2 separate regions of the Homo sapiens genome follow, and region 2 is linked to region 1. A link means that fine-mapping ties the variant in region 1 to the expression of a gene that starts in the linked region. Tissue or cell type: tibial nerve. Region 1 holds a variant in brackets; the other region holds the start of a gene. All regions are shown on one strand. Distances are from middle to middle.

Region 1 (5,600 bases):
TACGGCACAAAAATGACTCAGCTTTGGCTTACGTAGGTATCACCTGTTAATTTATAATAATATTGGTAAAAGATAGGCTGAAAGGAAGAAATAAGATTGGACAATACACAAAATGGAATATTATAATGTTAGCTAAATGTTTTAATCAGTAGCATGGTTACTATGTTAATATGCTTAGCCTAGTTTTCAAAAATTACTGATAACTTTAACTTTTGGATGGTTCTTTTCAAAGCAGAAGACATGTAGAATTATCAAGAAAATGCCTCTACTATATAATTAGTGCAAATATATAAAATATTCAAGGTTTTTTTTTTCAGTTTAAGTTTCTTGCAGAATTGGCTATTTCATTATAAAAAACTAAAGTCCTCTGTTTACGTCTTGCCAATGTCCCATCTTAGGTCCAGAGGGCCCTCCTGGAATAAGCAAAGAAGGTCCTCCAGGAGACCCAGGTCTCCCTGGCAAAGATGGAGACCATGGAAAACCTGGAATCCAAGGGCAACCAGGCCCCCCAGGCATCTGCGACCCATCACTATGTTTTAGTGTAATTGCCAGAAGAGATCCGTTCAGAAAAGGACCAAACTATTAGTGTCTGATGCCTCATTCAGCAGCCTAGGCATGGTGCTTTTTCTGTGGTCTTTTGCATCTCAGGAAGATAACCAACAGTAATCCCTTGAAAAGAAACTTAAGTACCTCGGTGTTTTTATTTTTTTTTTCTTATGGAAAAAAATATAAAAGATCACATATACTGATTTTAAAGGCTCCTCAGTCATTTGGAGCCCTTGGATTAGCAGCATTAATTAAATCTCAAGGGTTTCTTGTAAAGTCCATTTATGTTAATCAAAGTTGAATATAAAAATCCACCATTGCCTGTTAGCCAGTCAGTTTTAGTCACTGTGAAATATTTCACATTCAGCCTCCATGCAGTAGAGATTTGAGTTTAATTTCATGTCCATGTGACTTTCATGTTTCCTATCTCATAGCTCATGCTACTACATAAGCCAAAACATGTATCTCATCATTGGAAGTAAGATCAGGGCTGATATTCACCTGGGATAGACAGTATTGGTGAACTACTCATTTACTACAGTGTCTCAGCCTTGATAAGGGGCAGTGGATTGCCTGTTGTTCGGTGTTGTGAATAGCACCTCTGAATAAGATTAGAGTGTTTCTTAATTCATTTCAAACTCTAAAATTAGATTAATGGTGGTGCTAAGAAAGAGTATTAATTACTTTGGGAATGGTCAAAATTAACATTAAAAACATTTTAGACAAAAAGTTTCATTGTACATTCAAAGAAAATGTAAGTTTGGAAGTACTAAAAGACTATTTTATACTTGTTGATTAATCGGAATGTTTGTTGTATGCCTTCATTTTCCATTTCACTTATATGTGTATGTCCATATATGTTAATTTTCATTGTAGCAAAGCTAATGGAAATAAAGCTAATGCTCTAGTTGAAAGAAAAGGAAAACTCCTGAAATCCTAGAATGTCTTGTTATTTTTAGCTGACTGTAAAATATTATGAACAGTCTTTGTGTATTGTGCTTAATGCTTTTGTAAGAAACAGAATTTGAAATATTTCATCCTTGTCATGCTCAAAATTTTGTTACATGCTTGTTATTCAGAGTATAATAAAGTTTTGTACAGGCCTGATTACAATGTCTTTTTTTATACCTAATTTTAACTGATTGTTGAGTATGGTATGTATATTGCATGGTCATTTATTCAATGGATATAATTTATGAAATCATTCAGCCTATTCTTAAAAAATGTGTTCACCTGAAATAAGAAATTACAAATTGAATTGGTGTGCTACACACCTGAACAGTTGAAACACTTGCTTCCTAGCACAGTCATGGCTGTTGCCCAGTGTTTAACTTTATTGTCGTGCAAATTCTATTATTTTGATGAGGACTTTGGAGGGGACTAAAATTTATGATGTTTAGTGGCTGAATGAGCATAAGGCTTGTTCTGGTGTTTTATCTCCAGTAAAGGCCCAGGTATCTGCTTAAGCCAACAAACCTATCACCCCTGCTTTAATTATGACATTTGCTTCTAAGAGCTGGTAAAGAATCAGAATAAAGCCATTTGGTATCATTGATTTATTCATCCAACAGTACTCACCACATGGATAGGTTCGGTGCCTGGGATACAATGGCAATATAGTTAGAATTTGGCCTGAGGGAACACATGTATAACGAGACACAGGTAAGTGTACAGGTGATTCCAATATATTAATTCTAAGAATGGAGAAAATGCAATTGAAATGTAAAAGATGATGTTATGGACTGCATTGTATGCCCCCGATTCATATATGGAAGCCCTTACCCCCAATGTGACTATATTTGAATATAGGGCTTTCAGGAGGTAACCAAGATAAATGAGGTCATAAGGGTGGAGTCCTAATCCCATAGAATTGGTGGCTTTATAAGAAGAGGAAGAGGTTGCTCTCCCCTACTA[C/T]CCTCCCTCCCTTCATCTGCTTCATCTACCTCATGGCCTTCTAGCTCTCACATCCAGGGAAGACTATGTGAGTACATTGTGAAAGGTGACTCTCTGCAACCTGGAAAAGGGACCTCACCAGAACCCGACTATACTGGCACCCTAATTTCGAACTTCCAGCCTTCAGAACTGTATGAACAAAAATTTCTGTTGCTTAAGCCAGCAAGTCAATGATATTTTGTTATGGCATTCCAAGCAGAGTAGTGCAGATTATAGTAGGCTAGGAGGTATTGGCATAACTAAGTCATGTAAAGATAATGAAAATGAGCAAAGGGTGGAGGGTTAGAAAAAGCATGAAGAATTCCAAGAACAACAAAATCTATGGAATGTAAACTATATTTACTTTCAGTATTTCTGCTTTAAAATTTGGCATCTCAGGATGAAATATTTCCATAATTTAGCATGGCATACATTGTGTCATAGTTTTGCCTTGGAGAAATTTAAGACTAACTCATAACACGCTGATTTTCAAGAATGAATAGGTGAATAATCTTGCTCTGCAAGTACATTTTTGCAACATAACTATGTTACGTGCTCAGCACCATGTTACGTGAAAGGCCTTTTAGTGTGGTTGCTGAGAGCATGGCTTCTGTCCTGAGATTTCCTGCATCAAAATTCCTACGTTTTGTTTCTAGCTGCGAGGCTTCAGAAAATTTATTTACATCTTTGTACTTAAATTCTTTCATATGATAAGTTGAGGATATTAATAATACTTACTTCATAGTATTAAAAAGATTAAATGAGAGAAAACAAAAGAAATTCATCAGTGAAATAAAGTCATACAATTTACTAGAACTAGACAGAAAATATGGGGTTACCAAATCTTTTTTTTTTTCTTTTTTTTGAGACAGTTTCGCTCTTGTTGCCCAGGCTGGAGTGCAATAGCATGGTCTCGGCTCACTGCAACCTCTGCTTCCCAGGTTCAAGTGACTTTCCTGCCTCAGCCTCTGGAGTAGCTGGGATTACAGGGATGTGCCAACATGCCTGGCTGATTTTGTTTTTTTAGTAGAGACGGGTTTCTCCCTGTTGGTTAGGCTGGTCTTGAACTCCTGACCTCAGGTGATCTGCCCGCCTCGGCCTGCCAAAGTGCTGGGATTACAGATGTGAGCCATCATGCCCAGCCTTTTTTTTTTTTTTTTCTTTGAGATAGAATCTTGCTCTGTCACCCAGGCTGGAGTGCAGTGGCACAATCTCGGCTCACTGCAACCTCCGCTTCCCAGGTTTAAGTGATTCTCCTGCCTCAGGCTCCCGAGTAGCTGAGATTACAGACACCCAACACCATGCCCAGCTGATTTTTGTATTTTTAGTAGAGACAGGGTTTCACCATGTTGGCCTCAAGTGTTGGTCTCAAACTCCTGGCCTCAAGTGATCTGCCTGCCCCAGCCTCCCAAAGTGTTGGGATTATAGGCGTAAGCTGCCACGCCCAGCCAAGGTTACCAAATCTTGAGAGTGAAAAAATTTTAAAAGTACTAAAATCATTTTATATGTGTGTAACTGATACTGAATAAAGCTGATCTGACTCATTGGCATTCATCCTGAATGTCAATTCAGAATGAAACTCTCAGTCTTAAGGGTAAAAATCATTCTCAGTAAAGGCTGTCTTTGCATAATTTCAACGATTTTCCTCTAAAATGTAAAGTAGGGTCAATTTAGAAAAAAAAAAAAACCTTTAGGATTTATAGTCTTGTGGTACTATACTTTGTCTCTGGTGCTTAGAACTTTGCTAGGTGCTTGATTTAATTTTTGTCATGAAGAGATTTTCAACTGAAATTGAGCTGGGAGAACTCAATTGAGAACTCGTCCTTCGGTCCCCAGTAGAGGGCAGCCACACACACACACACACACACACACACACACACACACACACACACACACACACACTATGATAATCTCTTCTTCATTATATTAATCTTGTAAGTCTTATAAGTTATAACTATATATCTTTAGCCTGAACATTTTCTCATTTTTAAAAGTATGGCTAGATTTATTTTCTTACAACTTAATTATTCCAAAGAAGAAAAAAATTGTTCTCATAAGTTGAATACCTAAATCACAATTAAGCCGTTTATATTTTGATGTGTTGCCTATCTGCTTTACCTTTGCATAGTTCCATTTGTTAAAGTCCTCAGCTAGGAGGTTTGGTTAATTCTTCTGATTGATAACGTTATCGCCAAAGGCAAGGTTCAAAGCTCACTCCTGGTAGTCCTAAATTATAGATCTGGCCTATTGGCTGTGCCTCACCTTGGGGAGGCAGAAACTTGCTCTTATCATTATCTACAGATTGCAATTAATAGTCAAAGGACATGTCACCATAATCCAGGCACAATAGGTTGTATGAAATAACACAAAAGGTTAGCACCTCTGTGCCTAAAGCACTGAGAGCCTCGTCTTTGAGGACTGGGAAACAGAATGGGGAACACAGAGGGATGCCTCAGATTCAGATTCACTTCTGTAGTTTTAAGGCGAAAGACCAGAAATCAACTCATAGTTTAAATTTAGCTGCAAAGATTTATCTTTGGAATATCTTAACCAAAGTTTTATTTTGCCCCTAATAACACATTTGAAATAAGGAACATAAATGATAACCCACTGTGTTATTCCTGGGTTATGCCTTCTCAAAAGTAGGTTTTCACAGAGAAATTTTACAGATTCCAAAATTCTCATATTAGTATCTGTTTTAGCTTACTTTAAGTTCAGGGGTGCCTGTACAGGTTTGCTACATAGGTAAACTTGTGTCATGGGGGTTTGTCATACAGATTATTTCATCACCCAGGTATTAAGTCTAGTACCCATTAGTTATTTTTCCTGATCTTCTCCCTCCTCCCAACCTCCACCCTCCACCTTCCAGTAGGCCCCAGTGTGTATCGTTCCCCTCCATGTGTCTATGTGTTCTCATTATTAGGCTCCCGCTTATAAGTGAGAACATACAGTATTTGGTTTTCTGTTCCTGGGTTAGTTTGCTAAGTTTAATGGCCTCCAGCTCCATCCATCCCTGCAAAGAACATGATTTCGCTGGTGAGGTTGTGAAGAAAAACGAATGCTTATACACCGTTGGTAAGAATGTAAATTAGTTCAGTGTGGAAGACAGTATGATGATTTCT
Region 2 (5,600 bases), 190 kb before region 1:
CAATTCATGCATCATAAAATTTACCCACTAAAAGGGTACAAATCAGTGTTTTAAAACTGATATATAATTCACATACTGTAAAATTGACCATTCTAAAGTCAACAATTCAGTAGTTTTTAGTATATTCAAAATCGTCACTATCAGCACGAACTCCAGAGCATTTTTATCACCCCAAAGCAAACCCCATTCCCATTAACACTCACTCCCATTTCTTCCTTCTACCAGCACTTCATGTATTATAGGTATGGATTTACTACGTACTTCAAGTAGTTATGGATTTGCTTATTCTGAACATTTTATATTGACAGAATCATACAATAAGTGTTTTTTTGTGTGTGTGACTGGCTTCTTTTAGCTAACATGCTCAGGTTCAACCATGATTTAGCATGTAGTGTTTCATTCCTTTTTATGTCAGAATAATATTCCATTGTAGCGATATAACACTTTTCTTATCCATTCATCCGCTGATAGACATTTGGGTTGTTACTGCCTTTGGCTTTATGAGTAACATTCCTATGAATATTCATATAGAAGTGTTGATGTGGATATATGTTTTTGATTTTCTTGGCTATCTACTGAAGAATGAATTTGTCAGGTTATAAGTTAACTCTACATTGAACATTTTAGAGAATGGCAAACTGTTTTCCAAAGTGGCTTAATCATTTTTACAAGCCCACTAGGAATATATGAGTGTTCCAATTTCTCCATATCCTCCCTAACACTTATTGTTTTTCTTATTTTAGCCATCCTAGTGGTATAAAGTGTATCTGCTTGTGGTTTTAATTTTCATTTCCCCAATGGCTAATTATGTTTAGCATTCATTCATGTTCTCATTGGCCATTAGTAGATCTTCTTTGGAGAAACGTCTAAATACTTTGTGCATTTTAAAACTGTCTTTTTACTCTTGAGTTGTAAGATTTTTGTATATCTGGACACAAGAATCTAATTGTATAGATGGTATGCAAATATTTTCTTAGTATGTGGGCTGTTTACTTTCTAGATAGTGTGATTTGAAGCACAACATTTTAAATTTTGATGGAGTCTAACTTATTTTTTCTTGAATTGCTTGTGCTTTTGGTGTCATATCTAAGAAGATGTTACCAAATCCAAAGCAATGTTCTCCTATCATATTTTTGTAACAGTAGAATCTAACATGAATGAATAAGGAAATTCAGGAAATGATCATTTGAAGATGTTTGTATCACACCTGAATTAAGTGAGATTTAGTTATTGAAGAAGGCATTTCTTTGTGAACCTGTTCCCACAGGGAGAAATTAATTCACACATTCATTTAGCCAATATTTATTGAGCACCTTGTATATTCCAGGTATTGTTCTAGGCTCAGGGGACACAGCTGGGAACAAGACCAATTTCCTGCCCTCATAGAGCATACCTTGAGTTGGATAGGAAACACACACAAGCAATGAAGATATGAAAACCTTCAGATAGCAATAAGTGATCTGTTGAAACCAAAGTGGGGTTGGGCATTCCATTTGGATGGGATGTACAGGAAGGACTCACTCTCAAAGTGTCTCAAAGTGTCACAAAGAGTGGATAATTTGATGAACAGAAGCAAGCAACTATGATAAGGTCTGGGACAGAGTTTTGGAGGCAGAAGAAATGCCAAGTGAGATGAGAACACACTGGTGTGTATAAGAAAGGGCAAACAGGTCTTGTGTGTGTTGGGGTAGGAGGGGTGCACACGGGTGAGAAAAGAAGAGTTGCAGATAATAGGGAAAGCATATGAATGTTAAATAACTTTCTGGCTGCTCTGTGAAGAATGCACTCAAAGGGGCAGAGCAGACAGCATCTTTATCTTGTCATAAGGCTGTCACCTTATTCCGAGGCTTCCTTTGTAATTGCTAAACCCTTAAAGGTCACTGCCTACTTGACTATTTGAAAGTGAACTTCCCTCAGGTTTTGGAGCAGCTGTTACTTTTGGTTGAAAGCAAGGAACATCAGTCCGCTGCAACGTACCTTGGCGCCCCAGAGGGGGGTTCTTCTTGGGCAAGGGAGGCAGGCCTCCTTCGATCAGTGCAGGCGATGCTCTGGTGTTGCCCAAGTCTTTGCCTCCTTTAGTGCTTGCCCTTTCAACTGAGTTGCCTTTCCTGCTTTCCTGGCAGTCCCTTATTTTGCCTCTCTCCTCGCGCTTCCCTGGTCCTCCTTCACCCTCGTTTTCAATCCTCAATCGTGCATTTTCTGATGCTAGCAGGATTTGAACTGAGTGTTTCCACCAGGGCGACACTAGCAGTTCGCCCTTCAAGATCCAGATCCAAAATCCACCCTCTGGTCTTCGGCCAAGGAAAGGGGGCGGGTGGGGAGCGCGAACCTTATCTCCCGGGCTCCGCCTCCAGGGGGCTGAGAGCGAGTTTCTGAGCCTCTGAGCTCTGCACTGGCCGCTGCAGGGAGAACGGACTCCGGGCGGAGGGCAGCCAATCCGTTTCAGCGCAGGTCTTGCTCGGGTTGGGCTTGCCACTGCCTGGAACATACCTGTCCCCCTGGCGCAACACTCAGCTGGCTGCGACGGCAACCCCGAGCCTGGACACTGCGCCAGGTAAGGAGACACCTCCTACTCCCCTCTCGCTGCCAGAATGACATCTCGGGGGGCCTCAGGGCTGGCTCTCCAGGGGCTGCAATTTGGCATTTTGGGTTTCCTGGGGGTGCAGTCTTCTCCCTGCGCCAAAGCAGTTGGTGAACTGTTCGGTGAATTCCGCGCCCAGCTGGAGGCTGAGATGTCAGGATTTGTCTTGCAAAGTTACTTCATGTTAATGAATCTTGGGAGGTTCTCTGGGTGCAGATTCCTGCCTTGGAGTGTTTGGCTTCTGAGTACGATAACGTGCGTTGATTTACTCCCCTGAGCTCAACCCCACCCTCAGCTTTTAGCTTCTTGGAAGGGTCTCCAGCGTCCACACGTGGCGCTGAGCGCGCAGAGCTGTGGGTCTGGGGCTGTGTTGAGTGGGCCAGAGGTTCTTTACGGCTGCTGCATTATGGACTCACTCCGGGACCTTTAAAAAAATCGATGCTTGAGCAGCACCCCAGACCAATTACTCAGAATCTCTGGGGGTGGGACTTTGAGCATTAACATATTTAAAACTTTTGTCAGGTGATTCCAAAGTGCAGTCGAATATAGAAAGCAGCGAACTACAGCAGTGATTCGCTGTGTGGCATCTGGCCCGCAGCAGCAAGCACCTGGTAACTTTGAGAAATACAAACAAAATCTAGGGCTCTAGCTCCGCCCTAGACCCACTGAACCTAAAACCCTGAGGCTGGTGCCCAGAAACCTGTGTTTTAATGAGCCCTCCAGGTAATGCTAGTGCTTGCTCAAGTTTGAAAACTGTTGGGTTGGACCTTACTTAATCAGAGAAGACACCTGCAAATTTCCCTTCACCAAGGGAGGAGGCAACAGACCACTTTTCAGAAGAACCTTAGTTATTTATTAGTAGAGTTTTGCCCATATTGAAAAAAAAAAAGCATACTGGGGACTTTGAAAGATCTTATAAAGGGGAGACTTAAGCATCATCGAATAATTTTTAAGCAGTAGAATTTGTATACTTGCTTTAGGAGAGAATAGGAATTTTTCCTTTTCTAAAAGTTGAAATGAAGCCAAGGAAGAAATATACATGAGTCTTCCAGCTGTAATAACAGGAATCTTTGACCCCTGATGAAATGTTCCTGGATCATCACTGTCATCAGTGCAGGTTACAGCATTCATATGCGTATTTTGTCTTTTCCTAAAGTAGTTGAGGGTTTAAGGGATTCATGCCAATTCTCTTTAGTGAAAGGGAATTCAGTGTTGCAGGCCTCTGGATTATTGAAGTGGACCATTTTTTTTTTCTTTTTATAGATATCTGAGATTTCAAAATTTTGGCTAAAATAGTTCCAGCTGTTTCTAAGCCATTAGTTCAAAAATAGAATGACTTTGCAAATGGGCTTAAATGGATTAGAAATCTGACACTGGATAAGAAAATCTAGAATAGGCATGACTCCAATCCCAGCACATGCGTGCTGCAATGAACACAGGGCTAACTGTACCAAGACTTCCTGTACAGAGAACATTTATTTTCCAAACTGCTTTTTTTCTGTGCCAATTTGTGACTGAGGTATATAAACTTGTTAAGGGTTAGGTACTAAGCTTGTATTTAGAGAATCTGGGGGAAATTTAGATAGTGGTTAGGAACAGGAACTTTGGTCTGAGGCAGACCTGGGTTCAAGACCTGCTCTTCTGCTTCTCTGTGCTCTTGGATAGTTGCATAGCTTCTCCGAGCCTCATTTTCCTTATCTGTGAAATGTGGGGCGTACTAGTACACTTACCTCATAATTCACATTGTTGTCAGAGTTAAATAATGCTTCTAAAGTGCCTAGCATAGTAAGTTAAATATTTGTTAGCTCAAAATACAAACTCATGTATACACACCATCAAACAACATAATCCTCAACCACCTTAAAAGAAGATCTATGTTGATACATGATTAGATTTTTATTTAAATACCAACTGCACTCTTAGAAGGTGACTATATGGACATCCTCAAATTATCCTTATAATTTGATTACATACTTTATATGGAACTTTCTGGAAAAAGTTTTAGATTAGCTTCAAATCAATAGCCTAGGTTTTTTTAAGTCACTGTGGTGAAGGATTTCACCTTCTGGTAGCCTTTATAATGTATTAACATTCATATTTAAATAGCCGTAAAATCTGGTTCTTCAGAATACTTTTCTTTGTAAAAGAAAATCCAAATGAGAGAGCATCTAAAAGTGAGATGGTGTAGTCTCCAGGAAAGCTAGTTTAGAAGTACTATCTGGTGTTTCTTAGGTTCTTAACAGAGTGAATAAAGGAAACCCTATCCAGTTACATCATGATTTGTTCAAGAAAATATAAGAGGAAGCAAAATGAGGACACAGAGCAAGGACAAGCCTAAACTGGCAAAAAGAGTAGGTGAGGTAATGAGTCCTTTTCTTCCTTAGCTGCAATAATTTCAAAATGCTTCAAGTCACACACACATGCATACAATCAATTCCTTTCACATTATTTGATTGGAACTGATCTCTATTATCCTCTTAGGACCAAGTAGATCTAGTGAAAATATTTATGGTATTAATGCCAAAAAAGATGCCAAATGATTCTGTACTTTGAAATTAATTTCCATTCTCTTTTATTTTAGCGATAAGTTGAATAGTGTATTACTGAGAATGCCTTTTATGACTCATCTGGCATCTTTAAATGCAAGAGGTTGTAACCTGCTAATTACCAATCATATATGACTTCTATAAGACTAAACATAAAGCAAGTTCCGGCATCTAAGCACTTTAGTAAGTCCTCCATTCAAGAAATCAGATCTTCATTAGGATACTTTAAAAATTATAATTTAATGTTATTAAAATGATTAGAATTAGAATTTAATGTTATTAAACTAAATGTAATTCCAATTTATTATAAATAGGGTTTTCTATTTGACTCACTGTGGAAAGAGGAGGAGTAGCTGTGGGGATGAAAAAGAAGGTCAGAGGCATACCTGTTGTTGGGAAAAATGGAGACATATAGGAGCAAGTTCAGATTCTCAGTAATCAAATGCTGTGTTCTGGATAACTTAACTGAAAAG

Evidence for each region. PIP is the estimated chance that this variant, and not a neighbour inherited with it, causes the effect.
Region 2: it holds the start of COL21A1, and the variant in region 1 is the best candidate, but not a certain one, in a credible set for the expression of COL21A1 in tibial nerve (GTEx, PIP 0.65).

What each region holds. Positions count from the first base shown.
Region 1 is chr6:56,052,643-56,058,242 of GRCh38, reverse strand. It overlaps COL21A1 (collagen type XXI alpha 1 chain), which reads left to right. Exons shown (of 30, transcript NM_030820.4): 30 at 399-1,653. The coding sequence ends at 586. Among named protein-coding and RNA genes, the nearest start is that of BMP5, 180 kb to the right of the region's middle. The variant C/T (reference allele first, on the strand shown) is at 2,461.
Region 2 is chr6:56,244,341-56,249,940 of GRCh38, reverse strand. It overlaps COL21A1 (collagen type XXI alpha 1 chain), which reads left to right and starts at 2,361. Exons shown (of 30, transcript NM_030820.4): 1 at 2,361-2,554. RefSeq lists enhancers at 2,461-2,960, 2,961-3,462.